4 separate regions of the Homo sapiens genome follow, and all the other regions are linked to region 3. Evidence: fine-mapped QTL for protein levels in blood plasma. A gene starts in region 3. Each other region holds a variant in brackets. All regions are shown on one strand. Distances are between the middles of the regions.

Region 1 (5,609 bases), 61 kb after region 3:
GCAACAGCTCATACTTACTGAATGTTTACCCCATGCCAGGTACTGTGCTAATGGCTGTATCTTGTTTGATCCTTTTGATGGTCTAATGACTGGGATACTATCATTCCATTTCACAGATGAATAAAGCAGGGGAAGTGAAATAACTTGTGCAATGTTGCATAACTCAGGAGTGGTAGAGCAGAATTCCTGATTCCAAGTCCACGCTCCAAAGTCACTATAGTCTATTACCTCCCAGCATTTTGTTCTTACTCTTAATGCGCTAAGCCTCCCCAACACCACCCCAACAGATTATATTTAGAGAAGAGGAAGCAGTTCTTACACACTTTTGCCCTAAACAGTGTTTGGCAGGGTCCCATTATTATAAACTATTGGTTCTTCATTCACACTAAAGTGGAAATGACTAACAGTAGCTTCCATAACTAGATGAATTTGCCTTAAACTAAAAGCCTGAGATTAAATCTGGCCTATGCTGCTTAAGCTGTTGTACTTTCTTCTCCTCCCCTGCTGTCCTCAGCCAGTACCCCTGAGACCGTGTGCTAGATTCCCATACCAGGGTTCAGCTGCTACATCATCCCGCCTCTGGAAGTTCCCTAAATGACTTGCCTTGGCAGATGGCTCTGCTCTTTAATTAGCCATACAGTTACTGCTTCCCCTTATTTAATATCAGGAAGCTTCCACTTGTTTCATCCCCTTCCCCATCTTGGCCATAGTGCCTTCCTACTATTCTTTTCCCGTTTTGTACTTTTGTGTGCTCCTGTTCCCTTTAATGTGTTATCAGAATCTCATCTCAATCTAGGGATTTTTGCCAAGTTGTCTGAACTCTCTATCTCCATATGTGGTATCTGAGGTCCTTCTTAAACCCTGATTTTCCCCTTATTTGGTATTAATGCACACACTATTTTCAGGACCCAGCATCAAGAGTCAAGGTGAGTGTTGTTTGCAAATCTATCATAACTCGGAGAAGTCCCCATACTCAAATGTCTTAGCCATGTTAGCATGTACTCAGCAAGAGGCCATGAACAGTGGCTCATGCCTGTAACCCCAGCACTTTGAGAGGCCGAGGAGGGAGGATCACTTGAAGCCAAGGGTTCGAGACCAGCCTGGGCAACAAAGCAAGACCCTGTCTCTACAAAAAAAAAAAAAAAATTCTTTTTTAATTAGCCGGGCATGGTTGCACTTGCCTGTAGTCCTAGCTCCTTGGGAGGCTGAGGCAGAAGGACCCATGAGACTAGGAGTTTGGAGTCTGCAGTGAGCTATGATCGTAGCACCATTGCACTCCTGCCTGAGTGACAGAGCAAGACTCTGTCTATAAAAACTTTTGAAAAGCCAGGTGCAGTGGCTTATGCCTTTAATCCTAGCTCTTTGGGAGGCTGAGGCAGGTGGATCACCTGAGGTCAGGAGTTCGAGACCAGCCTGGCCAACATGGTGAAACCCCATCTCTACTAAAAATACAAAAATCAGCCGGGCATGGTGATGGCTGCCTGTAATCCCAGCTACTCAGGAGGATGAGGCAGGAGAATCGCTTGAACCCACAGGGCAGAGGTTGCAGTGAGCCGAGATTGCACAACTTCACTCCTGCCTGAGCGAAAGAGCGAAACTCTGTCTCAAAAAAAAAAAAAAAAACTTAAATAAAAATAAAATAAATGTTCAGTGAGAACCATAATGTGAATAGTATAACCCAGCATGATTTTGGTGTGAGGATAATTGATAATCATTTTCTTCCAGCAGACCTACCCATCTCGGTGGGATTTGCTTCAAGTGATGTATATTCAAATTAATTTGCATCTCCTGGTCATATACTAATTGGTTGGTGAGTGGTTAGTAGCCAAGAAACACTGCTTATGGCAAGAGAAAGTCAAGTGAAAGATTAAAGAAAATCATGATTAATAATCTGCCAGCTGATAAATAAGATAGTTATAACACCACTTTGGTGAGGTGTACGCTTTTGGCCATGTGTACACTGGTGCATTTTCAAGACAGTGGCTATCTTTTCACTTCTGTTTGGCTAATCATGTTATGTTGTTCTGAAGTTACTGCTGCCCTATACCCACTTCACACAGCCTGAGCTCTGTCTCCTTCCAATGAACATGAAGATCTTTTGATTCCGTAGTTCCTGGTTCTGTTCTGATTCCGACAGGATGCTGGCATCCTCAATTAGGCCAGCTAAGGAAAGCATTAGAAAACAGTGATGCACTACACTCTGTGGAACTTACCGAAACCAACAGGATTTTAGAGAAGAAATAAGGGGGAGCCTGAAGCTGTCAGGCCGCAAAAAATGTCAAAGAGAAATGAAACTTCAGTCTTAGAATGTCAAATAAAGTGTGATAAGAAATAAGAGGAGGGAAGATATTCCAAGTAGGTAAGGGCATCAGCATAAGCAAAGGTGCTGGAAGGGGTAATGAACATGTAATGGTGGGTGAGCAGGACTGCTGGGAGCAGACAGTGAGTTTGGGTAGAAATGACATAGAAGAGTGAATTGGTAAAAATGGAAGAGATGATGGGCAAATGAGAAAGCAACGAAGCAAAAAATATATAGTACAATATGATATTGGAGGACAGAAATGATTATTGGGGGTAATTTGACTTTTGACCATTTCCCAGGCTTAATTCAAGTATATTTAGCTTTCAAACATGACTTCTCCTAATATCTTCTACACAGCTCTTTCAGATGAAAAAAAAATTGGCTAACTGGGTAAAGGGTGATACCTTTATAAGCTCTATTTTTTTAATCCCTGAGGAAGTGAACCATGTTATGAGTCACATACATCGTGTTTAGGTAGGTGAGGAAATGCATTGAACTGATTTGCAGAGAATGAGAGCTCCAGACCCAGACAGTGAGACTTCAGAACTTCATAAATGTCAAAGCATCTTTGACATCTATGTCCCAGCTCTAGGACACATTCATGATAGGTTCACTTACTTCCAAACCCAAAGAGGATATTCTTAGACACTTCCTAGTTTCTTCATCTTGTAAAAGTGGTTAAGTGGCTTGTCCAAGGTCTTTTGGCTATAAATTGTAGACAAGGATTCAGAGCCAAGTGTTCTGTCCCCAAGAATGCTTTTGTCTCTTTTTTTTAAATAGTAACATCATGAGGACATCTCAGGTCATGGCTGGGGAGTGCTTTGTGCTCTGTAAGGGACTAGGAAATTGTTCACA[T/A]ACTTCTTCAATATTGTTCCTGCTGTGCTTTTTATAGGATAACACATTTTAACTCTGTCCTCACTACCAAGACTTTATATAAAATCAGCTGGAATGAATTGCTGGTCAAATTCAAAATTAATTTCATGTCAAAGTCTTTTCCTCATGATATTTGTGTGTTTTGTGAGAACTGCCTTTCTTAAATTCTTCTGAACCAACTCATAATACTCCAAATTTAAATCCATCCATCTATAAAACTACCTTTTCTGTATCAGTAGTACTTTTTCAGAACATACCTATTTCTAGATTATAATCAAATATTCTTAAAATAATCTGGTAGTCTGTGAGTCCTTTGTCTAGAACTTAATTAAAAGTGGCAAAGGAGGCCGGGTGCTGTTGCTCACTCCTGTAATCCCAGTACTTTGGGAGGCCGAGGCAGGTGGATCACGAGGTCAGGAGATCGAGACCATCCTGGGTAACACGGTCACCCCGTCTCTACTAAAAATACAAAAAGTTAGCCGGGAGTGGTGGTGGATGCCTGTAGTCCCAGCTACTTGGGAGGCTGAGGCAGGAGAATGGCGTGAGCCCAGGATGTGGAGCTTGCAGTGAGCCGAGATGGCACCACTGCACTCCACACTGGGCGACAGAGCAAGACTCCGTCTCAAAAAAAAAAAGGGGGGCGGAGGGGGGCAAAGGAGAAGCCAGGCATGGTGACTTACACCTATAATCCCAGCACTTTGAGAGGCCGAGGCAGGCAGGTTGCCTGAGCTCAGGAGTTCAAGACCAGCCTGGCCAACATGGCAAGACCCCATATCTAAAAAAATACAAAATTTAGCCAGGCGTGGTGGCACACACCTGCAGTCCTAGCTATTTGGGAAGCTGAGGTGGGAGGATTGTTTGGGCCCAGGAGATTGAGGCTGCAGTGAGCCATGTTCGCACCACTGTGCTCCAGCCTGAGTGACAGAGAAGACCCAGTCTCTAAAAAGAAAAAATGTAGCAAAGGAGGAGTATGCAGACTTAGGTGGAGATTCTGCAGGAGACTTCTAAGTACTTTTAAGGTGATATGATTCATTAAATTGAATTTTAATTTACTTTATTTTTAATGTTTATTTTTTATTTGCATAAACTTATGGAGTACAAATGTAATTTTGTTCCAAGGATGTATTTCATAGTAGTGAATTTTTGTTTTCTTCCAAGGTTAGAACTTTCTTCTTCCTTGCTATAACTTCCTTCAGGATCTGGCTATCTTTCTTCATTTTTTCTTTCTTCTCCTTCTCCTTCACCTCCTCTGTATTAGACTGTTCTTATGCTGCTAATAAATACATACCCGAGACTGAGTAACTTATAAGAAAAAGATGGTTAATGGACTCACAGCTCCATGAGGCTGGGGAGGCCTCACAATCATGGTGGAAGGCGAAGGAGGAGCAAAGTCACATCTTACATGGCAGCAGGCAGGACAGCATGTGCAGGGGAACTGCCCTTTATGAAACCATCAGATCTCATGAGACTTAGTCGCTATTACGAGAACAGCACAGGAAAAACCTGTCCCCATGATTCAATTACCTTCCACCGCGTACCCCCCAACCCATGACACATGGGAATTATGGGAGCTACAATTTGAGATTTGGGTGGGGACACAGTCAAACCATATCATCCTCTCTCCCTTCTTTCCCTTCAAGGAATGTTCAAAAAGAAGAGACCCTCTAAGGAATGATCAAAAGGAAGAGACACTCTAAAGTTACTGAGCGAGAGTTATAAAAAATAGGGAAGGCAAGAAAATGAATTTAGAGGGTTGAGAAGGATCTAAAGAGATTGAATGAGAATTAATTGAGTGTGTAAGGTAAAAGGAAAGTGGGGTAGCCTGGTTTGGGTACAGTCATCTGGATAGAAAAATGTAGGTAGTCCACCTTGGGTGGACATCTCTTTACATCAGGCAGCACTGCAGATGACTTGGTTGCTTTCTGGAGTTGCCGAGGGTGGGTACAAGGCAGAGGGAGGCAGCGCACAGTCATTTATTCTATGAACAGGATGTTTGCTAGACAGATGTTTGAGCAGTCTGGAGCTCTTAATGGAACAAGGGCAAGGATAAATAAATAATTGGACCTATCCTGATGTTTGTCCCTATACATTTAAGAATTCTGTGACCTGTTTTAAACGGAATCCAAACACTGAGTATGAGTTAGATGATAATGTTGTTATTACCCTTGACCTGGCCTTGAGGACTGATTTTGAGCTTTCTGTATGAGAAAATTAGCTCAGAGTGACCTAAAAATTTCTTTATTCTTAAAAACAGAAATAAATTCTCGATCTGCCTTGCCCTTCTTGGAAGAAAGGTAGAGTGGAAAGAGTTAGAAGTTATTTGGTACAGAGTCATTGAGTACAGTGCTCTCCTGAGGTAGAACAGAACTGTCAGGGATTGAATTGCAGGACAGACCTGCAATTCAAGATGATTGTTGGCAGTGAAATTGCTGAT
Region 2 (5,609 bases), 26 kb after region 3:
AACAAAAACGTAAATCCTCTAGATACCAAAACCCAAGCCCCATGGAAAACATTTACCACAAAAAGGTGACAAGCTATCCCCACAAATGCCAAAATATAAGTGGGTTGGAACAAGCCACCTATGCCACCAAGCCTGCAGGCTGTCAGCAGCTAGGTGGAAAGACACAGAGGGCAGTAATGAGGTGATGACAGATCCAATAATAGGTAAATCTCAACATAGCCAACAGGTTTTCACTGGAAAGTCCATTAGTGGGTGAGTGCAAGGGACCCAAAGGGTGGAAGGGGCTTGAGTAGCCTGGGTCCCGTGAACTCTCAAAACCCCCAGCCGGGGCTCCTGATATGGTTTGGCTGTGTTCCCACCCAAATCTCACATTGAATTGTAACTCCATAATCTCCAAGTGTCATGGGAGAGACCTGGTGGAAGGTCATTGAATCATGGAGGCAGGTTTTTCCCATGCTGTTCTCATGACAGTGAGTAAGTCTCACGAGATCTGATGGTTTTATAAAGGGCAGTTCCCCTCTGCATGCTCTCTTGCCTGACACCATGTAAGATGTACCTTTGCTCCTCCTTTGCCTTCCACCATGATTGTGAGGCCTCCCAAGCCATGTGAAACTGTGAGTCCATTAAACCTCTTTACTTTATAAATTACCCAGTCTCAGGTATGTCTTCACAGCAGTGTGAAAATGGACTAATACAGCTCCCTTCCAGGACAGGGCCCTTCACCAAAGAAAAACTACTAGGAATAGAATCAAAATTGAGCAGGACAGAAACAATAGAGATGAATGAAACAAAAGACCAAATAAAAGTGAAGGAGGGAAACAAACCCAGAAAATCACAGAAAGCAAGTTACTGTTTTTAACACTAAATGAAAACAACACAAAATGGAGTTCTGAGGAGTTGCAAAAAGGTATTTTGGACAATGTCTCCTTGTAAGGCTGTGGAAAACCAATTTTACATTTTAAAAAAGCACAGAGAAAGATTAAGGCCAAACCCCATACTAGAAAGAAATTTTATATAAGAGAAGAGTGAGAGAGAGAAAGGGAATAACATCCCTACCTGCAATGAAAGCACGTCTGCAAACAGGTGAAAACTACATACAACTGACTATCTGAATAACATGAGCTAAAAGACATTTTTTAAATAATACAAATAAAGAGTAACAAGCCAAAATTAGAATAACTCGAAAATGTGGTGAAGATCTCAGTTGTTATTTCAGAAATGAAACCAAAAGAAACACAATAGCGAATAAGAACAATAGAGAATCCCTTAAAAGACTAGGAGGTTAAAAGGAGGAAAATTATTAAATTAAAAAGAAAGGAGGAATGATCAAAAGCAGCAACCACTGAAGATATGCAGAGCAGATCTAGCATACGGATAACAGGAGTCACTGAAGAAGGAAACCAAAGCAAGAAAGCAAGCCAACACTAAAAATTATAACTCCAAAAAACTTCACTGAAATACAAGAAAAATGTAGAACTACATTTTGGAAGACCAGACAGTATACCTGAGAATATGGATCTAGAATGACAAATACCTATTGATATTCTAGTGAAAACAATACTGCACTTTAAAGAAAAAGAAAAAAGGATCTAGGCCAGGTGCAGTGGCTCACATCTGTAATCCCAGCACTTTGGGAATCCAAGGTGGGTGGATCGCTTGATCCCAGGAGTTCGAGACCAGCCCAGGCAACATAGTGAGACCCTGTATCCATTTTTAAAAAAAATTATCCAGGCATGATGTCACACACCTGTAGTTCCAGCTACTTGGGAGGCTGAGGTGGTAGGACAAACTGAGCCCAGGAGTCTGAGGTTGCAGTGAGCTGTGATCACATGACTATAATCCAGCCTGGGCAACACAGTGAGACCTTGTCCCAAAAAAAAAAAAAAAAAAAACCTTTTTTAAACATCTGAGTAAAAAGATTAAATGACTTATAAGGGAAAAGATTACATTATCATCAGATCATTTGACAGCCCCTGATTTTACCACAGAAACTAGAAGCCATTGAATAATAGAGGCAATTCAGGTTTCCTTGCAAGCCATTTTTGGGCAGTGCCTTATAAGTGGTGGAAGCAAGAATTGCTGCACGTGTTCAGAGGAAGTAGCCATGACTTCCACCTAGGAGGGCTTCATGGAGGAGGTGGAATGATTGCATCTTAAAGAAATCTTGGAAAATGTTTAAACTGCCGACATCAGAATAGTATAATGCATAAACATGTGACTTACTCTCAAAATGTTCAAGTCTGTATAATGTTGAATTCATTGCACACCATTTCATGTCCATGTTTTTTCTTCATGATTTTTAGAAAAGGCACTTCATTTTTGGCTAAAGGAATTTTTTTTAATACTGAAATTTGAGTAATTGATTCTGTTAATCCAGCATATGCTCCTATTAAATAAATTGTATACAATTCAGTGACTTCATTAGAGATGATAAGCCACATACTTAAATTTTGTGATACTCCCTGATAATCTGCATTCATTGATAATTGAGACAAAATTAATCATATATAATCAAGCAAAAATGCGAACAAAATTAGCTGTCAGAAAAGCATTATCCAGTCTTTATTTTTTAGTTAACTTTAGATATTTTAACAACACATAAAATGAGTGGTAGGGTATATTTGTATTTTACTGTATAGGACACCTTCAGATAAATTCTAAAAATAATTTGCATTTCATGTAATGCTTTTCACACAAAGTAATGGCCAAACTTTAGGGTCAGTTTGCCCTGCTTCATACCACATGCAGAACAAATTTAAGATGGATTAGGACTCCAAATAGAAAAGAAAAATTCTTAATAAAAAACTATTCAAGATGGATAAAAGGATTAATTTCAAGAAAAATAAAACTAATAAAATAGAACTATTCTGGTAACCCAGAAACCATAAGAGAAAGGATTAACAGATTAGCTGCATTAAAATTTCAAATTTATTACTTATTCATTCACCCATTCATGAGATAATTGTTTTTATTGAGAACATACTATGTGCCACGCACCATTCCTGCTGCTGAGGGCACAGCAATGTACTAAACAGCCAGCATCACTGCCCTTGTGGCATGCTGTATGGCAACCAAAACCATAAACAAAACAGGAAGACAGTAATAGCCTGGAGAAGTTATTTGCAAAATATTTGATAAGCAAACTAAATATCTGTAGTAAACAAGAGCTCATGTAAGTTGATCGATAAAGCAACAGGAAAAAGAGAAAAGTAATAAATAGTGAATTAAAAGGAACAACTGCAAGTGGCCATTAAACATGTGAAGAGTTGCTCAACTTCACAACAAGTCCTGAAATGCAATTAGAACAACAATAACCTACAATGTTTCCC[C/T]GTTCAGCTTAGCCAAATTTTTTGAAAATTTCTCACTCCCACTGCTGGGAAATGTGCAGGGAAATGGGGACCTTCCTGCACTATTGCCAAGACCAGAATTCCTAACAAGCTTTTCAAAAGTAATCTAGGAGTATTTATTAAAATTAAACATTCTCATACCCTTTGACCCAGCAATCTTATTTCTGGAAACCTCTCCTACAGAAACAAAAGTGCTAACGCATAGGGACATAAGTATTAAGAATATTTATTGTATCATAGTTTGTATATAGAAGAATTTGGAACATCTGGAATATTCTTAAAGAATTATGCCCATGTTTGGGGACATTTTGCAGCTATTGGAAAGAATGAATTTGATTTATGTGTATTGAACTAATAAAGCTAATACATAATACATGGATTGTTCACTGAAAAAAAGGCAGTTTAAGCCAGGTGTGGTGGTGTACACCTGTAGACCCAGCTACTCAGGAAGCTTGAGGCCAGGAGTTCAAGATAAGCCTAGGCAACATAGACAAACCCTGTGTCTTAAAATAAAACTTTAAAAAAAATTTAAAGCAGCTTGCATGTTAATAGGTATGAAATTTTCATTAAAAAAATAAAAACTATATGTATAAACAGTTTATATAAGTTGTTGGGGGGTTAGGATTATCAGGAGGTAAAAGTAGACAACTTGCTGCTTCTTTATATATTTGTATATTTGAATTGTTACAGTGAGCATGCACTTTTGCATTTTTTAAATAGCAACAAAATATTTTAAAAGAATACTGAACCACTACATCATTGATATTCCTCATAACTAAATTTCGAAGGTTCTTTTCTTTCCTTCTTCTAATTACCAAAAACTTGATTCAAATTTAAAACTATACACTCATAGATCTAGAATGATTCTGGGGTGATATTTCAGTTCATCATTAACCTTTCCCTAACCACTTCCCTGTATCATCTTAGTCTAAGAGATTTCAAACATGGCAACTCCAAAGACGCAGGTCCCAGAAGAGCTCTCTGAGACCGCGATTTGGGACCCACACTGGTCAAAAGAGGAAAATCACAGAGCATCCTTTGTAAACTCAGCCTTCTCTCAGGAAAGTCTTTCTTATTATAACTGATATTCCTTGGGCTGAAACTCACACCTGTTCCTCCACTTCTGATGTAGAGACAAAGAGGATTCTTGACCCCAAAGGACCTCCTAGATCATTGCTTCAACCTTTCCATTTTACAGATGAAAAAACTGAGGACTAAGTAAAATGTGGGGAGAAATGGTACCAAAACCCACTTCCCCTACTTGCTAATCAGTGCATTTTCTGTTGCTCTAGTAGTACCTTTCTTTCTCACACACCAGCATCCCCGAGTCGGTTCTACAACAGTGCCTTTCACCTGGTAAGCCAAAGTCTGTTGGATGCAAACTGTTTACACAGAATCCCAAGTAGAAGCTAAGTTATCAACGTCAAAGGACCAGGAAGGCAGGGTGATTCAATTGCAAACCCAAAGCAGCAGCACTTTGGAGCCAGAATAGAACTCTGAATAGTCCTTTATTTTGTGCTGAGGACCTAGAACTTCCACTTTTCTTTCTCTGGAGCCAGACTTCATGCTGGGGCTTTGTTTTAAAATCAAGGCCCCAGCGGACTCAGAACTAAGGAATTTTTTTCACACATATTCAAAACGGAAGCCCTGCCACCATGGGGAAGCTCAAGGTCCTTGCTCAGCTTCTGCTTGTGTTTGGGCTACATGAAAATCTCTGGGTGGTGGTTGATGTTTCCCGCACCAAATGATTTCTGCACAAGGCCCGACATTCCCCCTGCCCTGATAGAAGGGTCACACCACACACCAAGAAGGATGTGACTAATAAAGAGTGTGACTTCAGAGAATTTACAAGTCCAGACAACTTCTGATAAACATTTAAACAGAGGTCAGGAATGTTTTCCTTTCTGAGGGGAAAATATGTGGTCTATGGTGTGAGTGGGAGGGGCTGGTGGGGGGTAAATCTAAGCATTAGCTTCCTCCCTTCATAATTCTTAAGCATTTTAACAGCTGTCATTTTTAATGCCCTAACAGGCTTTCAGACTTAGAACCCATAGCTGAGTATGGGCCAGAAAGCTCTGTGAAAAAAAAATGGGCAATTCCAAAGTGATTACCAAGCAAGTTTAAAACTAACATTAGGATCATTAGAGGCACTTTCCCTGGGCCCTGCCCTGAAGCTAAGAATGTTCCAGAAAGTATCACTCAAGGCCCATTTTAAGTACCCAGGTTGGGATCTTCACTTCCCCTGCTGACAAAAGGGGGAAG
Region 3 (5,609 bases):
TGAAAAACAATCAACAGAATAGAAAGGAATTTCCTCAACCTGGTAAGACTGTCTATGAAATGCCCACAGCTAACTTCATACTTAGTGGTGAAAAACTAACAACTTTCCCTCTAAGGTGAGGACTGGGACAAGGGTGTCCACTCACCTCTTCTATTCAACATTATACTGGAGGTTCTAACCAGGGCAATTAAGCAAGAAAAAGAAACAAAAGGCACCAATTAAACAGGAAGAAGTAAAAATATCTCCATCTCCACATCCAGCCTCTCCACCTCACTAAAACTGAAGCTGAACAGGTGACAATATATCTGTTATTGGAAGGGTGGAGTTGTCAACTTGCTCTTTAAAGGCTCCATTCACCTGCCTTTTTTCTAACATCTCTTCTTGTTTTCAGGTCCTCCAGCTCGACTGGCACTATCACAGAGCTCGGGTTCCCCTTTCAGTGACCAGAAACTTGCTTGTTTTCTTTGCTTGCTGGGCAGTGAGGAGGTTCCTCAAAGGGACTCCGCTGTAGCACATGCTTGCATTCTCACTGTTGGCTCTGATGCAGGACCTCCACACACTGTGGGTGACAGCTCTTAGTGTACAGCTGCTGCCACTGCCCACCCACATGCCCTACACACGCAAACACACACACACACACACACACACACACACACACACACACAGTTTGTAGAGCCTGAGGGCTTCTTCTGGCTGCGGAGATAAGCACCTTTATTGGCTGTCTTCCCTTCCTGCTTGCTCACCTGCCTGCCCCAACCCTCAATCTCTGTGTCCTGATGTGGCTTCTCAGGTGACCTACTTGCACTGGAATCCTTGTCTCAGAGAAAGCTTCTGGAGAATCTAAAACTATGACAGATCGTCATACTAGATCATGGAACCAATTTAGTGGCTCTTGACCAGTGAATTAATAAAAAGGAAATCAGGGCCGGGCATAGTGGCTCACACCTGTAATCCCAACACTTTCGGAGGCCGAGGCAGGTGGATCACTTGAGGTCAGGAGTTTGAGACCAGCCTGGGCAACATGGTGAAACCCTGTCTCTAGTAAAAATACAAAAATTAGCCGGGCATGTTGGTGCATGCCTGTAATACCAGCTACTCGGGAGGCTGAGGCAGAAGGATTGTTTGAAGCTGGGAGGCAGAGGTTGCAGTGAGCCAAAATCTCACCACTGCACTCCAGACTAGGCGACACAGGGAGACTTCATCTCAAAAAAATAAAAAAAAGAAAAAGAAAGAAAAGAAAAGAAAGAAAGAAAGAAATTAAATACAATAGGAAATAGAGTGCACTCTGCATTTGTTTCCTTTTCAAGAAAACAAATGGGTCATGTAAACTGCATCTCTTAGGATGGAACAAAGACAAAAATATTTAGGGAAACTCTGCTGTAAAGATTTTTCATTGTTTTTTAAACAACTGTCAGGTCAACATATGACCTTTGAGGGGAAAAAAAATGCTCCACTTGTCTATAATACACTAAGGAGAGGCCAAAAAGCAGTGCTAGGTTTTTCTGGATTGGAGGATGTTTCCCCACTCTCCACCCCCCGATTTTGTGGTCATTTAATTTTCAAAAAATTTGCAATAATTATCCTTGTAAGAGTCTGTTGAGAATGAGTTCTTTACACTGCTAATGGGATTATGAACTGAACTGCTGGCTTTCAGTCAGCAACCCTGTAAATCCCTGGATTTATGCTAAGAAAAAAGAACACAAAAGAACCACAATGTGACATGCAGAATAATGCACGCTGCAATGTTACACATTCAGTTAAAAAGTGAAAGCAACTTCCATGTCTGCATTGGAGAGGCCAGTGTTCCTGGGAAGAGAGGCTTTCAAGTTGAGTTTGCAGAGCACTTCGCAGAAAGACTGAGGAAGAGTCCACCGTTTATATCAAAAACCTCCTGGAATGCTGGTGAAGACTGGGGGCGCTTTAGGTGCCTCCGTGGCAGCTCCAACGAGGAAGGAGCTGGGACCCCTGCTCCTCTCAGCTGCGCTCTGTTCTCCCGAGAGGCTTGCTGGAGGGCGAGCAGTTCAGCAAGAACTCAAAACAAGGGCACAGCTCTCACACGGATTCCAGTACTCACTGAAAACGGCTCAGCACAAAAAAAGCACAGAGTCTTGTTGAATGCCACTGGGAGACAAAGCGGGGAGGGAGGTGCAGGCAGTTAAGAGGTTCCAGAAAGGGAAGTGGTTGGCAACGGTTTGTCCTTTTAGTGCTTGACACCCAAGACCACAGCAGGCCTGTGGCCAGCGGGGACACAGTCCACAAGTGGGGGTTTTTAACAGCTTGTTCTTAAGAGAGCTTCCCAAACCACAGAGTAATGAGCACTCAGGTGTCTCAGGCCCACGGAGGATTTAATAGATGAAACCCTGGATCGTCTCGAAGCCGTGGTTGTTAAGAAGTTTAAATATATTGACCGGAAACGGGGAGAAACCAGAGGGTGGAAGAGCCGCTCGCACTGCGGTGCGATCCCTGAGGGCTCGGGGCAGGGGACTGGGGACCGAGCAGGAGCTGGCGGGGTGAGCTCTGCGAAGCGGGCGTGAGACCGAGCGCCCATGGGCCGGTCACGCCGGGTGCCCGCTCACCCCCCGACGCCAGCAGGAGCGCGCGCGCAGGCCCCGCGGGGCCGGGAGGGCGGCACGGGCGGGGCCCCCGTGCTCTCACCGCCCCGGGGTGTGGTTCCCGCGGACAGGCCGGGCGGGGCGGCGGGTTTAAGGCGCCGGCCGGCCCGACACGGCTCACTCGCGCCCTTGCCGCTGCCACCGCACCCCGCCATGGAGCGGCCGTCGCTGCGCGCCCTGCTCCTCGGCGCCGCTGGGCTGCTGCTCCTGCTCCTGCCCCTCTCCTCTTCCTCCTCTTCGGACACCTGCGGCCCCTGCGAGCCGGCCTCCTGCCCGCCCCTGCCCCCGCTGGGCTGCCTGCTGGGCGAGACCCGCGACGCGTGCGGCTGCTGCCCTATGTGCGCCCGCGGCGAGGGCGAGCCGTGCGGGGGTGGCGGCGCCGGCAGGGGGTACTGCGCGCCGGGCATGGAGTGCGTGAAGAGCCGCAAGAGGCGGAAGGGTAAAGCCGGGGCAGCAGCCGGCGGTCCGGGTGTAAGCGGCGTGTGCGTGTGCAAGAGCCGCTACCCGGTGTGCGGCAGCGACGGCACCACCTACCCGAGCGGCTGCCAGCTGCGCGCCGCCAGCCAGAGGGCCGAGAGCCGCGGGGAGAAGGCCATCACCCAGGTCAGCAAGGGCACCTGCGAGCAAGGTGGGCACGAGCGCTTCCCTCTCCAACCCTGCGCCGCTCGGCCCAGCGAAGGGCACATCCGACGGGGCGTCCGCGGCGGCCTCGCCCCGCGCTGCTCACTGCGATTCCCCCGCGGGCATCCCAGGAGCCAGATGGGAGGGAAAGAGTTGGCAGCCGCGGAATGCCAGGAGCGGTGGGCGACGCCCCCCCTTCTCCTTTTTGGTGGTTTTATTTTGAGAGTTTGCTGCGTGCGTCCAGAAAGTGAGGGCCGGGTGTATATGTAGAAAAGATTTTCCGAGACCTCAGACTTCCCCATGCCCAAAGCGCACCCAACTCGTGCTAACATCTGTCCATTTCTCATCATTCTTGGCTTGGGGATGTAGAGAGAGGTGAAGTCAAGAGATGGGGGAAAGGAGTTTGACAATTAAATATAAAGTAAGGACTTCCAGACAGACTTTTTTTTTTAAAAGATAGGATCTTGCTCTGTCGCCCAGGGTGGAGGGCAGTGGCACGATCTTGGCCCACTGCAACCTCTGCCTCAAGCGATCCTCCTGCCTCAGCCTCCCAAGTAGCTGGGACTATAAGCCTGTGCCACCACGCCTGGCCAATTTTTGGTTTTTTGTTTTGTTTTGTTTTGTTTTATAGCGACGGAGTTTCACTATGTTGCCTAGGCTGGTCTCGAACTCCTGAGCTCAAGTAATCCCGGCCTGCTGGGATTACAGGCATAAACCACCGTGCACAGCCCTGATTTCTTAGTATTGAAGAAAATAGTCCACTTTCTAAAAATTATAGGTTCTCAAACAGTAATCTAACTAGCTAATTATTTGTGGGCAAAAATAAAATACAAACTCTTTGAAGACTGTTTTTGTGATGCACTTTGTTGTCAACCTTCTGACCATTTTGTTTTTCCTTCCTATTTCTTTGATTTGTATTGTTTTGCATAATTTGTCCCCAGGATACACTGTTCAGCAGAAATGTCTTTGAGATTATGTTTGATTGTTTATTTTATTCCAAACAAGTCCAAGCTTGCTGTAAATGAAATAAGGAAATAGGCCGGGTGGGTTGGCTCACGTCTGTAATCCCAGCACTTTGGGAGGCCAAGATGGGCAGATCACGAGGTCAGGAGTTCGAGATCAGCCTGACCAACACGGTGAAACCCCATCTCTAATAAAAAATATATATATATACATTAGCTGGGCATGGTGGTGCATGCCTGTAATCACAGCTACTCAGGAGGCTGAGGCAGGAGAATCGCTTGAATCTGGGAGGCGGAGGTTGCAGTGAGCCGAGATCACATGACAGCACTCCAGCCTGGGTGACAGACAGAGACCCCATCTCAAAAAAAAAAGAAAGAAAGAAGAAAATAAAGTCTGGACTTGCAAATACACGCACATACACACACACATAGAAATTTTAACTCTAATGCCTGAAATAACATTTTCCATTGGCAGTATTTTCAAGGGAAAGTCAGACATTCAATGTTGGCAGCTCCTGATCTTAGCCAAGGTAGAAAAGGGAGAGGAGGCAGTTCTGAGGTTACAGAAGCTGTTGCTTCTTTAACACAGTTCAGACTTTCTCCAGAATTTCCAAATTCTTTCTTTAGAGCTTTTCCCAGAAGTCCACAAACTAATAGGTTGTATGTCATCAATTTCAGAGTTCACTATTGAAAGCCTTAAATTGTGTAACTCACTAGTAACTATTTATAGTATCATCACCTTAAACTTAGAAAATTGCAACCCAAAATAATCTGCATATGTTTACAATAGAAACAGTTATTTGTTACTTTGGATCTCATTTGTCGGTCACATCATGAAAAGATAAATGTGCGTTATTTAAGAATTTATTCCAAATATTGAGATTTTCTTATAAACATTACAATGGGGAACTTTATAGTTTTTTCAAAATGGCAGATACTTGCCTTATCAGAGCAGAAGGTTAGCTTGGTGATTGTTCAAGTGTTGTCAATTTCTAGTTTATACTTAATATTCCTTTTTCTCACCTGCTACTTACATCACCAAACACTCACACAGTCTGATTATAAAATATTGAGACTGACAGTCATATAGAACCAGTTTCATAACCTCATTACCATGTACACCCAGCTCAGTACCTCTCCAGACTGCAAACCCTTTGAGGGTTCCGGCCCGGCTTTTCTTTATATTTGGGGAAATGTTAGAGAAAACAGCATCTAAAACTGGAAACCTTGACTTAAATTAGCCATTTCTTCTCATCCTAAATTGAGAGAGATGAGTTCTAAATGGCAGAGACCATTTATAGGAGAATGCCAAAGAGAGCAGAAGAGAATGGGAAGCCTTTCCCACAGCAGAAACTTTCCACAGCAGAGACAATAGACTGATCCCTATCACATCCCCTAAATATTTCTTCTGACA
Region 4 (5,609 bases), 34 kb before region 3:
GGTACTTAGACCCTGGGCGTAATCCTGGCCTCTTTATCATCTCTTTTCAGGAAGGCTACTAACTGAAATTCTTCTTCTCTAAATGAATTCTATAATGACCCAGAGCCCATATTCACTAACTTTCTTTCCTGGCTTGTTTTATGTAACTATTATAAAGGTAATACTGAACTGCTGGCATCCCACCTACTTAGTGTGTATCTGTTTTGCTCCTTCCCATTTCTACTACTAATAGAAACAGTTTGTCTCTTGTGTTTTATGACACCAAACCCTTGAAATGATCTAATGTAACCTTCATCATTGGACCCACTGGCTTTGGTAAAAACCTGCTGGGGATAGATTCTCCAAATGCTCTTCTCTCCATCTTTGAATGTATCTCTTTATCCATTGCCCCTTCTTCAATCCTATCTCAGGAAAAATACTATACCCCTTGCTCTCTGAGACATAGTATTTCCACTTCCACTCTTCCTTGGCCTTGTCCATTTTGCCTCCTGCTGTATCTTGAAATACGAACTTTTTAACCCTAAACCGCCACCCTATAAATGCTTCCTGTCCTCTGTGTTCTCACTCACAGCCTCTAAATATGCATCTGGGTCACCTAATTAAAACATCTCAACCCTCCCTCCATGTAGAAAGTGCAGACACTAATTCAATGGCTACTTTATATCCTTTAAACGATATATCCAGAGTGACAGGCACATAGCGGATGCTCACAATGTGGTCGTTCCTTTTCCCCAACTGTAGTGGATTTGTTTCTCAGCCTTCCAGCCATAGCTGAGGGAGGACAGCACAGTGGAGGGGAAACAGGCAGATCTTTAGAGTCATGCAGACAAAAGTGTCCTCCCCAGCTCCCCCACCTGCCGTCATATCTGTATAACAGTGTGGGTTGTTGACATCTCAGTCAGATTCTGCATAGTGAATTAATGTGGGGCTTTCCTTTCTCCTACCTTCAAGGGCAGGGACCATGATCTCAATTTATCTTTGCATCAATCTTCAGTTCCAAGAGACATGCCTGGCAAAAAGGAGCTATTCAGCACATATTAATGGAACCAACATGCAACAGAGATAACTGAAGATGATATTAAAAGTAATATCAGACACCATGGGGATAAGAAGGGGACGAGGGGAACTAGGTTTTCAGAAATGCCAAGAAATTCCTGGAAGTCAAGAGCAACTCTCCAGAAATGGACAAGAGAGAAAGGGTAAGGAAGGAGGTACAGTGATCACCAAAGAAAAAAGAGTAAGAAACTAAGGAATGCAAGACCAAGGGACTCTGATATTTGGTGGATTCTCTAGTCCTTTTTTAACAGGTACACTTCTATTAAAAATTGAAATGATTCTACAACATTTATATGAGGATTTTTAGTCATTAGATGCTTTTTATGTCCATTCTCTCTTATCAAAAAGGTGCAAGAATTTTCAACCTATTTCTGTTGGGTGCAGGGAGAAGAGGAGGAATAAATTGGAGGAGGGATTAATTATCTGAAAGAACATCTGGGAAACATAAGCAGGCATGGGATTCCAGAAACGATAAGAATCTCCCCTGAGGTCCAAACAGAAGGAAAGGAAGTTTCCTTTCAACCCTCTTGAAAGGACTTGAAGGGGGTTTTGCCCCTATTTTAGCCTTTGTTGTTTCAAAATAATGTAGGATTTTGTCTTCCATAGTTTTCATCATTTATTTATTTATTTTGGTGAAAGCATGTATAGAGAATTACAGAAGGGAATCCATGTATTATTTAGAACTAGCAGCTACACATAATCATTTAAACTAAAGATGGTTGATCAATAATTCTCTACACAGAAGAGAATTCTCTCTCACAGAGGAAACAAAAGGTTTTGATGTCTCAAGTCCTCTGAGATTGCACCTACAGCATTGGTCACAAGTTCCTACAGCCAAAATGCCTTTATCAGAAAGGAACATTCTAGAAGAGGCCAAGCTAATTATGACATTAGAGCCATTATCAAGAGAAGAAGCCAGTGGCTAGCAAGCTCTACGTGCTTGAAAAGACCATGATGTATTTTCTGTGTGTGTGCTCTCCTCAGAGGAATAAAAGACAATAAATGGACCAGGTATGGTGGCTCTCACCTGTAACCCCAGCACATTGGGGGGCCAAGGATGGAGGATCTCTTGAGCTCACAAATTCAAGAGCAACCTGGGAAATAAAGCGAAAACCCATCTCCACAAAAAAAAAAAAAAAAAAAAAAAAAAACACTAATTAGCCCATGTGGTGGTGCATGCCTATAGTTCCAGCTACTTGGGAGGCTGAGATGGGAGGACTGCTTAAACCCAGGAGGTCGAGGCTGCAGTGAGCCATGTTCTAAAAAAAAAAAAAAAAAAAAAAAAAAAAAAAAAAAAAAAAAAATTCTTGGCCTTGCAGGGTGGCTCATGCCTGTAATCCCAGCCTTTTGGAAGGGAGGCAGATGGATCACTTGAGCCCACAAGTTTGAAACCAGCCTGGGCAATATGGTAAAACCCCATCTCTACAAACAATACAAAAATTAGCCAGGTGCAGTGGCACACACCTGTAGTCCCAGCTACTCAGGAGGCTGAGGTGGGAGAATCACCTGAGTCCGGAGGCGGAGATTGCAGTGAGCCGAGATCGTGACACTGCTCTCCAGCCTGGGTAACAGAGTGAGACCCTATCTCAAAAAAATAAATAAACATATGCATACATACTATCTTTACCATGTTTTAAACCCTAGTAGAGTCTAAAGATGGAATTATGAATTTTTAATGTTTTCTTTTTTTGTAACCCAAATAAAACTGGGTATTTCATGATGAGTCACAATACAGTTTTGCATTCAAAAGAATCCAAAACCCAAAAGAAAACATTAAAAAGCAATGTA[C/T]ATTTTTATGGAATTCTTTTGAAGAGAGTGGGAAGAGTTACTAGATGGCATGACACTTGTGAAAACATCTTTAAAATCATATATATATATATATATTTCTTCTCAGTTTCACAGCGCACAGCTAGGCGGATACATACAAAATTTTGTCCTTCTTTCTCTCCATCTGACCCCAGCTCTCTGCTTTGGGGTCTGTTCTGTTCTTCCAATTGCTCTGGGCTCTTTTGACTAAAAATTATTTCAGTCTTTCTGTCCTTACAGTTCTGCAACCTCACATTTTCTCAGCAGAACACTAGATCCTGTCTTCCTTTGACAGGGAAGGGAATGGGAAAAGGTGTGATTACTTACACATTCATACTTTTTAATGTTACAGACTCTATCATATCTGTATTTTCTAAATCCTTTTAATGAATATGTATAACATTATAATTAAAAAGGCATATTTCCTTTTTTCAATAAAACACAGAAGGTCTTTAAAATGTACCTTAAAAGACTGTACTTCCAAGGATCATTTCTGTAGTGCATCATTAGAGAACAGGAGAAAGGGTAGAGCATCGAAGAAGGACAAAAACCATATGATCATCTCAATCAATGCAGAAAAAGCATTTGATAACATTTAAAATATCTTCATAATAAAAACTCTCAACAAACTAGGCATGGAAGGAACATACCTCAACATAATAAAGGCCAAAAATGACAAATCCACCACTAACATCATGCTGAATGGAGAAAAGCTGAAAGCCTTTCCTCTAAAAACTGAAGCAAGACAAGGATGCCCACTGTATTAGTCTGTTCTCACGAAGACTAATATGGGGCTATATTAAATTACCCAGACTTGGTAATTTATAAAGAAAAAGAGGTTTAATAGACTCACAGTTCCACATGGCTGGGGAGGACTCACCACCATGGTGGAGGTGAAGGAGGAGCAAAGGTGTGTCTTACATGGCAGCAGGCAAGAGAGTTGTGCAGGGGAACTGTCTTTTGTAAAACCATCAGATTTCATGAAACTTACTGTCACAAGAACAGCATGGGAAAACTCACCTCCATGGTTCAATTACCTCCCACCAGGTCCCTCCCACAACATGTGGGGATTATGGGAGCTACAATTCAAGATGAGATTTGGGTGGGAACACAGCCAAACCATATCACCTGCTTTCACCACTCCTGTTCACCACAGTACTGGAAGTCCTAGCCATTGCAGTCCAGCAAGAGAAAGAAATTAAGGGCATTCAAATTTGTAAAGAGGAACTCAAATTATCCCCCTTTGCAGATGACATGATCAGATATCTGGAAAAACCTAGAGATTCCAACAAAAAACTCTTAGATCTGATAAATAAATTCAGTAAAGTTTCAGGATACAAAATCAATATATAAAAGTCAGTAGCCTTTCTATACACCAATAACAATCTAGCTGAGAAGGAAATCAAGAATCTCATTTACATAGCTACCAAAAGAATACCAAGGAATAAATTTAACCAAGGAGGTGAAAGACCTTTACAAAGAAAACCACAAAACACCAGTGAGATAAATTGAAGAGGATACAAATAGAAAGATACCTGGTGCTCATGAATTTTAGAAGTTAATATTGTTAAAATAAACATGCTCCCCAAAGCAATCTACAGATTCAATGCAATCTCTGTGAAAATACCAAAGTCATTTTTCACAAAAACAGAAAAAATAATCCTAAAATTTATGTGGAACCAAAAGAAATTTATATGGAGCCCAAATAACCAAAGCAATCCTGAACAAAAGGAACATAGCTAGAAGCATTACACTACCTGACTTCAAAATATATCACAAGGCTATAGAAACCAAAACAGCAAGATATTGGTATAAAAACAGACACATAGAACAATGGAACAAAATAGATAACCTAGATATAAATCCATGTATTTACAATCAGCTGGTTTTTAACAAAGGCACCAAGAACATACATTAGGAGAAGGACAGTCTCTTCAATAAATGGTTCTGGGAAAATTGAATATCCATATGCAGAAAAATGAAACTAGACCTCTATCTCTCATCTTATCCAACGATCATCTCAAGGCCAGGCACAGTGGCTCACGCCTGTAATCCCAGCACCTTGAGAGGCTGAGGCAGGAGGATTGCTTGAGCCCAGGAGCTTGAGACTAGCCTGGGCAGCATAGCGAGACCCTGTCTCTACCAAAACTTAAAATTAAAAAAAAAACTTAAAATCAACTCAAGAGAGATTAAAGACTTAAATGTAAGACTCAAAACTACAAAGCTACTTGAAGAAAACGTAGAGGAAACCCTTCAGGACTTTGGTGAAGGCAAAGATTTTATGGCTAAAACCTCAAAAGCACAGGCAACAGAAACAAAATAGACAAATGGGTCTATATTAAACTAAAAAGTTTCTGCGCAGCAAAAGAAACAATCAACAGAGTAAAGGGACAACCTGTTGAATGGGAGAAAATATTTGCAAACTATTCATCTGACAGGGGATTAATATCCAGGATACACAAGGAGCTCGAAAAACTCAACAGTAAAATAATAATAATCCCATTAAAAAGTGGGCAAAGAACATGAATAGACATTGTGCAAAAAAAGACATACAAATGGCCAATAGATATATTAAAAAATGCTCAACATCACTAATAATCAGAGAAATGCAAATTAAAACCACAATGAGATGCCATCTCACATCAGTCAGAATGGCTCTTACTGAAAAGACATAGAATAACAGATGCTGGTGAGGCTGCAGAGAAAAGGGAACATTTGTAGATCATTGGTGGGAATGTAAATTAGTC

Alleles and levels. Positions count from the first base shown, and alleles are read on the strand shown. Strength reflects both the effect of a copy and how common the allele is. Not every link is listed here.
With allele T in place of C in region 4, the plasma level of the protein whose gene starts at base 2,732 in region 3 is lower (moderate association).

Evidence for each region. PIP is the posterior inclusion probability: the model's chance that the variant is causal. Protein levels are from antibody-based Olink assays in UK Biobank. Linkage for the fine-mapping came from a reference panel and not from the study's own genotypes, which makes the PIPs less certain.
Region 1: its variant is fine-mapped to the plasma level of the IGFBP7 protein (UK Biobank, PIP above 0.99).
Region 2: its variant is fine-mapped to the plasma level of the IGFBP7 protein (UK Biobank, PIP above 0.99).
Region 4: its variant is fine-mapped to the plasma level of the IGFBP7 protein (UK Biobank, PIP above 0.99).

What each region holds. Positions count from the first base shown.
Region 1 is chr4:57,046,260-57,051,868 of GRCh38, reverse strand. The region is part of intron 1 of IGFBP7 (insulin like growth factor binding protein 7); the gene reads left to right. Among named protein-coding and RNA genes, the nearest start is that of IGFBP7-AS1, 61 kb to the left of the region's middle. The variant T/A (reference allele first, on the strand shown) is at 3,158.
Region 2 is chr4:57,081,072-57,086,680 of GRCh38, reverse strand. All of the region lies in intron 1 of IGFBP7 (insulin like growth factor binding protein 7), which reads left to right. Among named protein-coding and RNA genes, the nearest start is that of IGFBP7-AS1, 26 kb to the left of the region's middle. The variant C/T (reference allele first, on the strand shown) is at 3,330.
Region 3 is chr4:57,107,508-57,113,116 of GRCh38, reverse strand. It overlaps IGFBP7 (insulin like growth factor binding protein 7), which reads left to right and starts at 2,732. Exons shown (of 5, transcript NM_001553.3): 1 at 2,732-3,240. The coding sequence starts at 2,766. IGFBP7-AS1 (IGFBP7 antisense RNA 1) reads right to left here and starts at 3,355. Exons shown (of 5, transcript NR_034081.1): 1 at 3,147-3,355. RefSeq lists a silencer at 2,594-2,663.
Region 4 is chr4:57,141,886-57,147,494 of GRCh38, reverse strand. All of the region lies in intron 1 of IGFBP7-AS1 (IGFBP7 antisense RNA 1), which reads right to left. Among named protein-coding and RNA genes, the nearest start is that of IGFBP7, 34 kb to the right of the region's middle. The variant C/T (reference allele first, on the strand shown) is at 2,845.